Regions from separate parts of the Homo sapiens genome. Here region 1 is linked to region 2. Evidence: fine-mapped expression QTL. A gene starts in region 2. The other region holds a variant in brackets. All regions are shown on one strand. Distances are between the middles of the regions. Region 1 overlaps SEPTIN9 (septin 9). Region 2 holds the start of SEPTIN9 (septin 9).

Evidence for each region.
Region 1: its variant is fine-mapped to the expression of SEPTIN9 in whole blood (INTERVAL, PIP above 0.99).

Annotation. Positions count from the first base shown.
Region 1 is chr17:77,347,238-77,352,609 of GRCh38, forward strand. The region is part of intron 2 of SEPTIN9 (septin 9); the gene reads left to right. Among named protein-coding and RNA genes, the nearest start is that of MIR4316, 47 kb to the right of the region's middle. The variant C/T (reference allele first, on the strand shown) is at 2,138.
Region 2 is chr17:77,279,008-77,284,379 of GRCh38, forward strand. It overlaps SEPTIN9 (septin 9), which reads left to right and starts at 2,492. Exons shown (of 12, transcript NM_001113491.2): 1 at 2,492-2,547. The coding sequence starts at 2,529. It overlaps SEPTIN9-DT (SEPTIN9 divergent transcript), which reads right to left and starts at 2,890. Exons shown (of 3, transcript NR_136503.1): 1 at 2,605-2,890. RefSeq lists an enhancer at 574-1,221 and a silencer at 2,823-2,986.

The sequences.
Region 1 (5,372 bases), 68 kb after region 2:
CGTGGTGGCAGGCTCCTGTAATCCCAGCTACTCGGGAGGCTGAGGCAGGAGAATCGCTTGAACCCAGGAGGTGGAGGTTGCAGTGAGCCGAGATTGCACCATTGTACTCCAGCCTGGGCAACAAGAGTGAAACTCCGTCTCAAAAAAAAAAAAAAAGAGTCTCCACCTATGATTGTGGAATTGCCCATTTCTCCCTTTAATTCTTTCAGGTTTTATATCATGTATTTTGAAGCTCCTTTGGTTAGGTGCATACACATTTATGATTATAATGGTGTCTCGATGAACTGATCATTTAACCATGATGAATGTATTCCTTTATCTCGTAATAATTTTATCTTGGACTCAACTTTATTGATATTTATGTAGCCTCTCCAGCCTTCTTAAACATGCTGTTTGGGATGCATAAGAAGGCTGGAGAGGCTTATGGAGAAACTTATGATGGTTTGACTTACAGTTTTTCAACTTTACCATGGTGCGAACGTGGTATGTATACAGTAGAAACTGTACTTTAAGTATGTGTGAAACCATTGTGTTTCTCACTTTCAGTACAGTATTCAATAACTTACATGAGATAGTCAACACTTTATTATAAAATAGGCTTTGTGTTTGTTGATTTTGCTCAACTGTAGGCTGAAGTAAGTGTTCTAATCATGTTAAGGTAGGCTAGGCTAAGCTAGAATGTTCGGTAAGTTAGATGTATTAAGTGCATTTTTGAGATGATATTTATTTTCCACTTATGATGGGTTTGTCAAGACATAACTCCATCATCATTCAAGCAGCATCAGTATGTCTTTTTCCAAACAGAAAATTTCAACCTGTGTTTATACTGAAACAGCATCTTTTGTAGATAGTATATAGTTGAGTCTTGCTATTTTATTCATTCTGACAGCCTCCGCCTTTTAATTGGAATATTCAGGCTATTTCTGTTTAACATAGTTATAGATATGACTGGGTTTAGAGCTACTACCTTGCTCTTTGATATTTATTTCTTTCATCTTGCTTTCTTGGCTTCTTTTATGTTAATTAAGTATTTTTTAGAATTCTATTTTAATTTATGTTTTTTTTTTTTTTTTTTTTTTAAGACAGAGTCTCACTCTGTTGCCCAGGCTGGAGTGCAATAGCATGATCTTGGCTCACTGCAACCTCTGCCTCCTGGGTTCAAGTGATTCTCCTGCCTCAGCTTCCCTAGTATACTGGGATTACAGACGCCTGCCACCACGGCCGGCTAATTTTTGTATTTTTAGTAAAGACGGGGTTTCACCATGCTGGCCAGGCTGGCCTCGAACTCCTGACCTCAGGCGATCCGCCCACCCTGGCCTCCCAAAGTGCTGGGATTACAAGCGTGAGCCACTGAGCCCGGCCTGTTTTGACTTTTTAATTGTATCTCTTTGTATTGCTATTTTAGTAGTTACTTTATAGATTCTATTGCACATTCTTAGCTTTTCACAGTCTACTTAGAATTAACATTGTTTTTCTTCATGGAAAAAAAGTGTAAGAACTAGGCAATCCTATGGGTTCATTTACCACTTTCCATCCTGTATGTGATGGTTGTTAGATATTTACTACATCCATACACATTGTAAACTAGACAATACAATAAGGAAATTTTTGCTTTAAACAGCCCCATGCATTTTAAAGAAATTAAAAGTAAAACAGAATCTTTTCTATTTGCCCATGTATTTGCTATATCCTGTGCTCTTCATTCCTTCCTGAAGAGCTGAGTTCCCATCTGGTCTCATTTCCCATGATCTTGGAGAACTTGCTTCACGGTTTTTGTAGTGCAGGTTTGCAGACAGCTAATTCCCTTTCATTTTCACTTATCTGCAAATCTTTATTTTGCTGTCATTCTTTCTTTTTTTATTTTTATTTTTATTTTTGAGACAGAGTCTCACTCTGTCTCCCCACAGGCTACAGTGCAATGGTGTGATTTCAAAACTCCTGCCCAATCTCAACTCACCAACCTTCTCCTCCCGGGCTCAAACGATTCTCCTGCCTCAGCCTCCCAAGTAGCTGGGACTACAGGCATGTGCCATCATACCCAGCTAATTTTTGTATTTTTAGTAGAGATGGGATTTCACCATGATGGCCAGGCTGGTCTCGAACTCCTGACCTCAAGTGATCTGCCTGCTTTGGCCTC[C/T]TAAAATGCTGGGATTATAGGTGTGAGCCACTGTGCCCAGCCTGCTGTCATTCTTGAACCATAATTTCACTGGTTATAGAATTCTGAGTTGTCAGTTTTTTCTTTCAGGACTTTAAAATATAGGGTTCCAGTGTCTTTGGCCTCCGTTGTTTCTGTCAAGGAATCAGCATTCATCTAGCTATTCCCCTGTAGACCACATGTTGTTTTTCCCTGGATGCTTTTAAGACTTTTTATCCAAGTTTGATTGCTCAGTACCTACCTCTGGGCAAAAAAGCCTCCAGAAACCAGAAACTTATCTAGTTTTATTCCCCTCTGTCAGGTGTAGACTCTACTCCAGCTTCTACCTACTTGAGATATTCTATACTGACTCCAGGCTGTTGTTATTTTGTTCTTTCAAATATTTTGTCCAGAGCTATAATGTTTTCTGCAGAATTGACCAGATAGCAGCTACTCTCTGTGACCAGGAGCCTTGATCTTCCAGACTTGCTGATGGGCTCACAAAGCTCCTGCCCGTGGCCCTCAGTTGGCAGTGGCCTCTCTGCCTTGAAGTTGCCATGAGTGTGTAAAACCTACAGGCTCAACCTTCCTCATTAGTACAGTCCAGAAAAGTGGAATTCCTGGTCTGGGTGGCTATGGTGCCCTAGACCACTGGCTAGACCAGGGTGGTGACTGCCAGCTGGCCGAATGTGGGGTCTCCAGCCTAGCACCCTTGGACTCTACCCCAGGAGTTATGGCTGTTTCAGGGCCAGGGGCCTGGCCTCAGCCCCTGTCCCCCTTCTCTTCTCCTCAAGTTGCCCAGCATCAGGTCCCAACCAGCATCTTTTGCAGACAGGGTGGGTCGGCTCCTCACTAGAGGGGCAGGGTTGGGCGGGAAGCCTGTTGAGCCCTCCTTCCTGTGCAGCCCACAGCCCTGGGGTTAGCTCCAGAGGGGTGCAGAAAGGAGCCCCCAAAGGCAGAAACTCACCCTTCTCTCTGTTCTTGTGCTTCCAGGGATAAAGGAGAGGTGGTCCTAGCTGGGGGGCTACCAGTGGCATGCAGGAGGCCCACATGACCACTGTTTGCTGGGGCCTTTCCTTCTCTGTGAGAGAGACGAGAGAGAGGAGAGAGAGTGTGAGTCAGGGTAGTGTCTTCTTCCAGTAACGCAGACTTCTGCACGTGTTCTCTAGGAGAAATCCCGTCACTCGCTAGAGCTCTAGATCTGGAAGAAGCTCTGCCTCTCTTCTCTCCTCCAGTGCAGTGTGTGTGTGTGTGTGTGTGTGTGTGTCCCCACATGCATTACACCCTTCTACAGAGGAAATAATTCCCGTCCAAGTGCAAAGGTTGGGATTGGAGCAGGCAGCATGTGGGCTAAAGGAGCAGAGAGGAGGAAACGGGGGCGGGGGTGAGGGTGGGAACAGGAGGTGGGTAGATGCCACGAGGCATGCCTTCCACAACTAGAAGGGCTGGTGGAGATGACCAGAATGCTCCAGACAGACCTTTTATCAAACTTCCAAAATTCAATCTTGTTTCATGAAGCCTGAGGACCCTGCAGAGTGAAAGACAAGGAAGGGCTTTCCTGCAGGGGGGTGTGTGTGCCTGTGTGTGCCTGTGTGCTGTGTGCCCCCATGTGTGTGCACGTGTGGACCTGTGTGGTGTGTGCCTGCACATGTGTGCACGTGTGGACCTGTGTGGTGTGTGCTGAGTGTGTATATGTGTGTGCCTGTGTGCTGTGTATGCACTTGCACATGTGTACACAGATCTCATTTTCCTTTTTTCTGGCTTACTAAGTGCCAGAAAGAATTTCCGTGAGCCTCTCCACCCTTCCCAAGGCTGCACATGGAGGGACTTGCGCAGGCACATGTGCGCGTGCACACAACACACACACACACACACACACACACACACACACACACACACGAGTCAGGGGCGAGCACTCCTGTGGATTGTACCTAGGCCTGGCAGGAAACCGGGTTCTGGGAAACTGTAGGCCCCACCTTTGGCAGAAAACCATGTTTTTGTTGCTGCTCGTTGAAGGGAACATTAAGTGGGGCTGGGGACAGTTTATGTTGAGAAGAGCAAATTTTGCCTATGGCACTGGGGACATTGAGTGGCTCCTGTCCCGGGCTCTGGAGGGCTTGGGAGACACGTCTGCAGCTCTGGGCATCTCTCAAGGTCACGGGCGGCCACACTCAAGGTTAGGCCCTCCTCTGTGTGAGCTGCGGTCAGCAGGAAGGCTGACCTCAGAGGCGGCCCCAGGGCCCTTGGAGGCCCTGCCCCTGAGACATGGGCCAAGGTCAGAGAGCCGAGAAGGCTGCTGCTGAGGACTCTGGTTGGCGCCCAGCCCAGCGGCCCTTCAGGCGGGCCCTGTGCAGGGGCTGATGAAGTCAGCTGGGAAATCTGTGAAATAAAGCACAGGTCCCCCAGGCTTGCCCAGAGCCCCGGCATCAGATGAGGTGCAGAGAAGGGAACTGAGCTGCCAAGTGTGAACAGGAGAGAGGAGCCCCAGGACCACACAGGGGCCCCGACATGGCAGGTGCTTGGTCAGCAGCGGTGCTGCCCTTACTGCTGGACGTGGGAAAATGCACTGACACTTGCTGACCAGAGCCGGGGTGAGCATCTGGGTGACCCTGCAGATGAGACAAAATAAGGGCTGCCGTGGGGGAGGGGCCCTTGCCGGGCCACCCTGCTGAGGCCCTGTGTTACTGTCCTGCGGCTGTCATAACAAAGGACCACAAATGAGGTGACTCAAAACATCCGAAATCGGCCACGTGCGGTGGCTCATGCCTGTAATCCCAGCACTTTGGGAGGCCGAGGCGGTTGGATCACGAGGTCAGGAGATCGAGACCATCCTGGCTAACATGGTGAAACCCCGTCTCTACTAAAAATACAAAAAAAAAAAAAAAATTAGCCGGGCGTGGTGGTGGGTGCCTGTAGTCCCAGCTGCTCAGGAGGCTGAGGCAGGAGAATGGCATGAACCTTGGAGGTGGAGGTTGCAGTGAGCCGAGATCGCGCCATTGCACTCCAGCCTGGGTGACAGAGCAAGACTCCGTCTCAAAAACAAAAACAAAAACAAAAACAAAAACATCCGAAATGTCTTCCCTAAAGTTTCTGGAGCCAGAAATCCCAGACCGAGGTGTCTGAAGGTTCATTCCTCCTGGGGGTTCCGAGGGAGACTGTCCCATGCCTTTCTCCGAGCTCTGCGGCGGCCAGCAACCCCTGGTATTCCTCGGCTTGCAGCTCGGCCTACCCCCCACCT
Region 2 (5,372 bases):
AAAAATTACAAAAAAAAAAAAATTAGCCAGGTGTGGCGGGCACCTGTAATCTCAGCTACTCAAGAGGCTGAGGCTGGAGAATCACTTGAACCTGGGAGGCAGAGGTTGCAGTGAGCTGAGATCGCACCATTGCACTCCAGCCTCGGCGACGAGGGCAAAACTCCCTCTCAAAAAATAAAAAATAAAAATAAATAAATAAAAACAAAATTTGAGGCTTAAACAATTAAGCTTCGTGCATCTCTTTAATTTTTCTTTTTTTTTTTTAACTCTAATTTCATGACAGATTAAGCTTCATGCATCTCAAAAATGTGTAGAACCCTCATTCCCAGCCTTCCCTCCCTCTCTCTTGTCCTTCTTTCTGATTTCTTGGAATCGGAAGGAAAATTCGGATATCCAGGAACCATCACACAGGAGGCACCCATGTGATGTGTCCAACATCACTCCACGCAGGTGTCCTTGGGTCCTGGGTGCCCAGGTTCCTGTGAATTGTGACCCCAGGCAGAAGCGTGAGCATCCGCAGAGGAACCCACCTACCCAAAGCCAGGGAACAGCCAGGGCTGGCATCCTCAGGGTGACTGTGCTCCAGGGCACCTCTGACTTGTGCTGAGTAAAATGGACAAAGCCAGCAATGCACCCATAACCCAGATTCTTGAGACACCGCTGGACTTTGGGAATCCCAGGCATTAGGCTCGTGGCAGTGTCATCATGGCTAGGCTGGGGGCAGTGTCATCATGGTGCTTGCTGGCCAAGTCAGGACACGGCCTAAGCCGGAATCTGCTGGTGCTGGTACAAGCGGTGAGTGGGCGTGTGGGTGGGGGTTGCGGTTAGGGTGTGGACATCCCAGAATCCAGGACGCTGTTCACAATTCGTCCATACTCCCTGCTCCCCTCCCTTACAGCACTTCCCTCCCGAGGCCTCCTGAGCCTCTAACCCCCAGATAAGGAAAGGGGTGGACTCAGTTGAAGTCCAGTGTCCACTCCGGTCCAATCAGCTCTACCTGGGGTGAGGGGAAACTCCTCTGGCTGGGCTGCTCCCTCTGCAGGGCTGTGGCTGGACAGATTACTCAAGAAAGGAAGCAGGTGGGCCGGAACGAACCCACGGTGCCACATAGGCCTCCGTTCTCATGCATATAAGTTTCCCACACTCAGGCAGGAAATGAAAATGCTTCTTGGACCCCCAAGGAGAGTAAAGGAGAGGGGAAGAGGAGGAGGATTTTTCGGGGCTGTTAGTGACACTTTCAGCCTCCTGTGCATTTTTGGGAGGGCTGCAGGAGAAGGCAATGCTGCGCCCCTACCCAGAACTAGCGAGCGCTTCCCAACTGGCCTCCCGCCTTCCTCTCGTCCTCTACGGCCTCCATTGGCAGCTGTGCAAGGGCCCGGCCCTGCCTCTGTCTCTCCACACTCGCTGTGATACCTCAGGCCTCCCAGGCTCCGCCACGCCCTTCCCTCTTTCGGGAACAGCTGCCTTCCATCACCTTGGCTGCCTGGCTAATTCCTGCTCATTCCTTAAAACCCTGTTTTGATTTCGCCTCAATAAAACTCTGACACCACCCTCCAGTCATAATTAGTCACTTCTTCCTCTGTACGTTGGAAACACCGCTTTATCGTGGAGACTTTAAGGATATCCAAGTAGAGAGAATTCTTCCGTGCAAGTTTTGCATCCTCTCACCACTGCCTGCGTTACCCGAGTTGTAAAGGGCGGCTCCCTGTGTCTGCCCCGCTGCACCGATACACCGAGCTGCGCACGGTGCCCAGCGCAGGGAGAACAAATGATCATCTGTCCAACGCGCCCATTTACAGGTGAGGAAACTAAGGCTCCAACTCAATCGACGCACTCTGCCCTTTTGATTACCAGAAAAGTAGCAGGACAGGTGTCCTGTCCCGCCCTACCCCGGCCCACTAAGCCGGCACCCCGGCTCCGACCCCCGGCTGTGCCCGGCGCCGCCGCGGTGCCCGGCGCCGCCGCCTCGCCCGGCGGGGCCGCCCGGAGCGCCCGCACCTCCGCCCGCTTCCACCTGGCCGGGCCCGCCCCGCCCGGACTCGGGACTGGGAAGTGCGGCGACTCCCGGAACCAGCCATTGGCGCCAGCGCGGGGAGCTGGGGGTGCAGAGCTGCGGGCGCGGCGGGCCACGCAGGCGGCCCCCACCCCCGGCCTGGCCTGGTCTGGTCTGGTCTGCGCTGCCGCGCGGGGGCGCCCCCTCCCAGGCCCGGCGCCCGCCAGCCCCGCTCCGCCAGGTGCAGCGCAGCGCAGGGGTGGGCGGGGGTGGGGCTCGGCGCGCACGTTCACGGGGCGGGGAGGGGGCGGGTCAGGGGCGGGACCACAGCCGGCTGGGCCGGGGTTCTATGCGCATCTCCGGGGAGGGGCGGGGCGGGGGCGGGGCCGGGGCGGGGCCCGGTCGGTGCACTCCAGACGGCGGGCCGCCCCCTCTTCCCGCCTTCCTACTACCGGCCCAGGATTAGCGCCCTGGGAGCGCGCGCCCCGCTGCCTCGCCGCCACACTTTCCTGGGAGCGGCGGCCACGGAGGCACCATGAAGAAGTCTTACTCAGGTGGGCTTCGCGCCCGGGGTGGGGAGGGGTCGGTGTCCCGGGACCAGCGCTGCTCACCTGAGTGCCTGCGGCCGGGAGTGGCGAGGCGCCCCCGGAGCTGAGCGAGTCCCCGCGGCGGGCACACTGCAGGTCGAGTTCCTCCCAGGACAGGGCCGCTGTCGGGCCGCTTTCGACCTGAGCCGACCGTCCCCTGCGCTGTCTCCAGCCCTTGCTCGAGTGTCGGAGGGGCTGCCCTGGGGGACGCTCCCTCTTCCTCGCCCCTTGCACCCTCGCAGGAATCGCTGACTTTCCAGGTCGGCCGGGTGCTTTGGGTCCCTGTGCGTCTGTGTGGGTGAATGGGGTCGGGGCTAGGTGGAGGGGTGTCCTTGGGTTCAGCCTCTAGGGCTGGTGGTCCAGGCCGCAGCATCCTTTCTTCGGATTCTCTTCGGTTTCTCCTCTACTTAGTGGGGCACGGGACGGCCTCCAGATGGGACCGTCCAGCAGCGCCCAAACTTGGCGACTCGGGTTCACGTTTTGCGCTCAGGACGCCGCCCGCGGCTGACATCCTCACTCCACCCTAGCAGGGCCCGCCTTAAGTAGGCGAAGGGGGCCTGACTTGGGCCTCACCATGAGCCGGTTCAGGAGCTTTCATTTCATAAGAGGCTCCCGCTCTGGCACTCTGAAGTTCCATTTCACAGATGGGCACACCGAGGCCACAAGGGCAGGTTAAGAGAAATCCAGATCTTCATTATTTGTCTTTTCCTTCCTTTTTTTTTTCCTTTGTGGTTTTCTCCAAAGGATCCAGGCAGGCAGGATCCTTTGTCCTCCTCAGTCCTCAAATTATAAATAGCGTCTCCTCTTCTAAATCTAGAAACCGTTTGTTTAATGTCCCTCCTTTAATTCATTCAGATAGAAAGGTACCTGCCAAGGATCCATGAATTAATTTTTATTGATAGGAGAACAGAATCATGGGCCTTAGTTGGAGGTGAAGGAGTCATCGGGGCCATCCCCCTGCCTTTGGGCCATTGTCGGTTTCCTCTGGCTTTCCATATTTAGGAACCAAAATGAGTGATAAAGTACCTTGTCTCAAAGAGGATTACTCAGAACTTCCCCGAAAATACCCTTCTGGGTCAGTAGCTTAGAATTTCAACTTTCACCCGGTTGTTGCGAACAAGATGGCCCTCTACGCACCCGGAGCACAGCTCTGTCAGGAGCGTGGGTGGGTTGGTGTGCTGGTGGGCGGGAGCGGGCTTCCAGGTGGCACATGCTTGGTTTTGGCACCGGGGCTTCCTCCCCAACATGCTCCAAATACTTGAGATTGTTGTGGGGATCGCGCGGTGCATGGCCCTTTCCAGGGGATCTCTAGCCCGCCCAGGGAGGGCCCTTTGCCCTTGGTTTCTTACACTTTACCTCCCACTGGTGGGTCCAGACAGTGGGGGTGACCGGGGTCCTCCCAGGTCGTGGGTCCTGGGTTTTTTCTGCGGAGACCCTCCTGCACAGATGCCGGAAGGGCCCTGAGGCAGGCTTGGAGTCTCTGCACCTGCGGCTTACTGGGAGGTGGGGAGACCATCACTTGTCCTTTTCTCCTCTCCTCCACACACACCTACCCCACCCCTCACTGGGTTTCTTTTTTTTTTTTTTTTTTAAAAAAAAGGACAGAACCTTTTGCAGTAGGTGGAAGTAGAGTTTGTGGAGTGAGCAGGAACCAACTCTTGTACAGCAGCCTCGGTGCCTCCTTGTGTTTACCTAAAGGGGCAGGCCCCTCTGAGGATGGGGGAAGGGAGGGCTCAGACCATTTCTGGTTTGCTCCCTGCTTGGCAGTGGCCCAAGGTGTGCTGGGTCACTGTGTTGCAGTTGTATGGAGTGGGACTGGAGGGGGCTGATGGTGGGGGTGGCCTCTTGCCCTCATTCTGAGTGTCCTGGAGCTGTCTTGGCACCAGCCCTTTTCCGGGTACGGGCACTCGCAGGAGTCAGGCTGACCCCCCAACAAGCCATCGACACCATGAAATTAAGGAAAGCAGCAAAAGATGTTAAAAATCCCCCAAGGCTCTGACAATCCAAGGACAACAGGAAGGTCTTTATTTTTTCATCTAGACTGTGCGGGATTATTGCTTCCAGACCTGTATGTGGGCTTCAGAATAAACGGAATGACCATAATGTTGTTCCCGGTAGACCTGGTTTGAACATTCGTGAGCCTCTGAAAAGGAGAAAGATTTTAGAAGGATGTGTTGGGGCAATCTCAAGTACCGTGGGTCTATAGACAGTCATCGAAGACACTTTATGTGCTGGGCACACATGGCCAAGTCTGAGTGGGTACAGAAATGGTAATGAGATATAGTCCTTGCCTGCAGAGAACTTACATTCTCACCGGGAGTCAGGATGAGGGCGAGACACCAGCTCATTAACACCCTTCCCTCCTGAGCAGTTCAGCCTCCAAATACTACAGGAATGCCCCGGAGGTTTTAGGTGGAGGTGAGATTGAGCTGGGCCTTGAGGAAGGAGAAGTCTTGAGTAGTGGAGAATAAAAAGGGACTTGGCCAGGTGCGCTTGAAGTCCCAGCTACTCAGGAGGCTGAGACACGAGGATCGCTTGAGCCCAGGAGGCTACTCAGGAGGCTGAGACACGAGGATCGCTTGAGCCCAGGAGGCTACTCAGGAGGCTGAGACAGGAGGATCGCTTGAAGCCAGGAGTTCAAGGCTGCAGCCCTGTGACAGCGCCTGGAAATAGACACGGCACTCCAGCCTGGGTGGCGTCATGAGACCCCATCTGTAAGAAGGTCTTTTCCAATGCGGAAGGCAGCAAGGGCCCACACAGGGCAGCTGCAGGATCCAGGGGGACACTGGGGA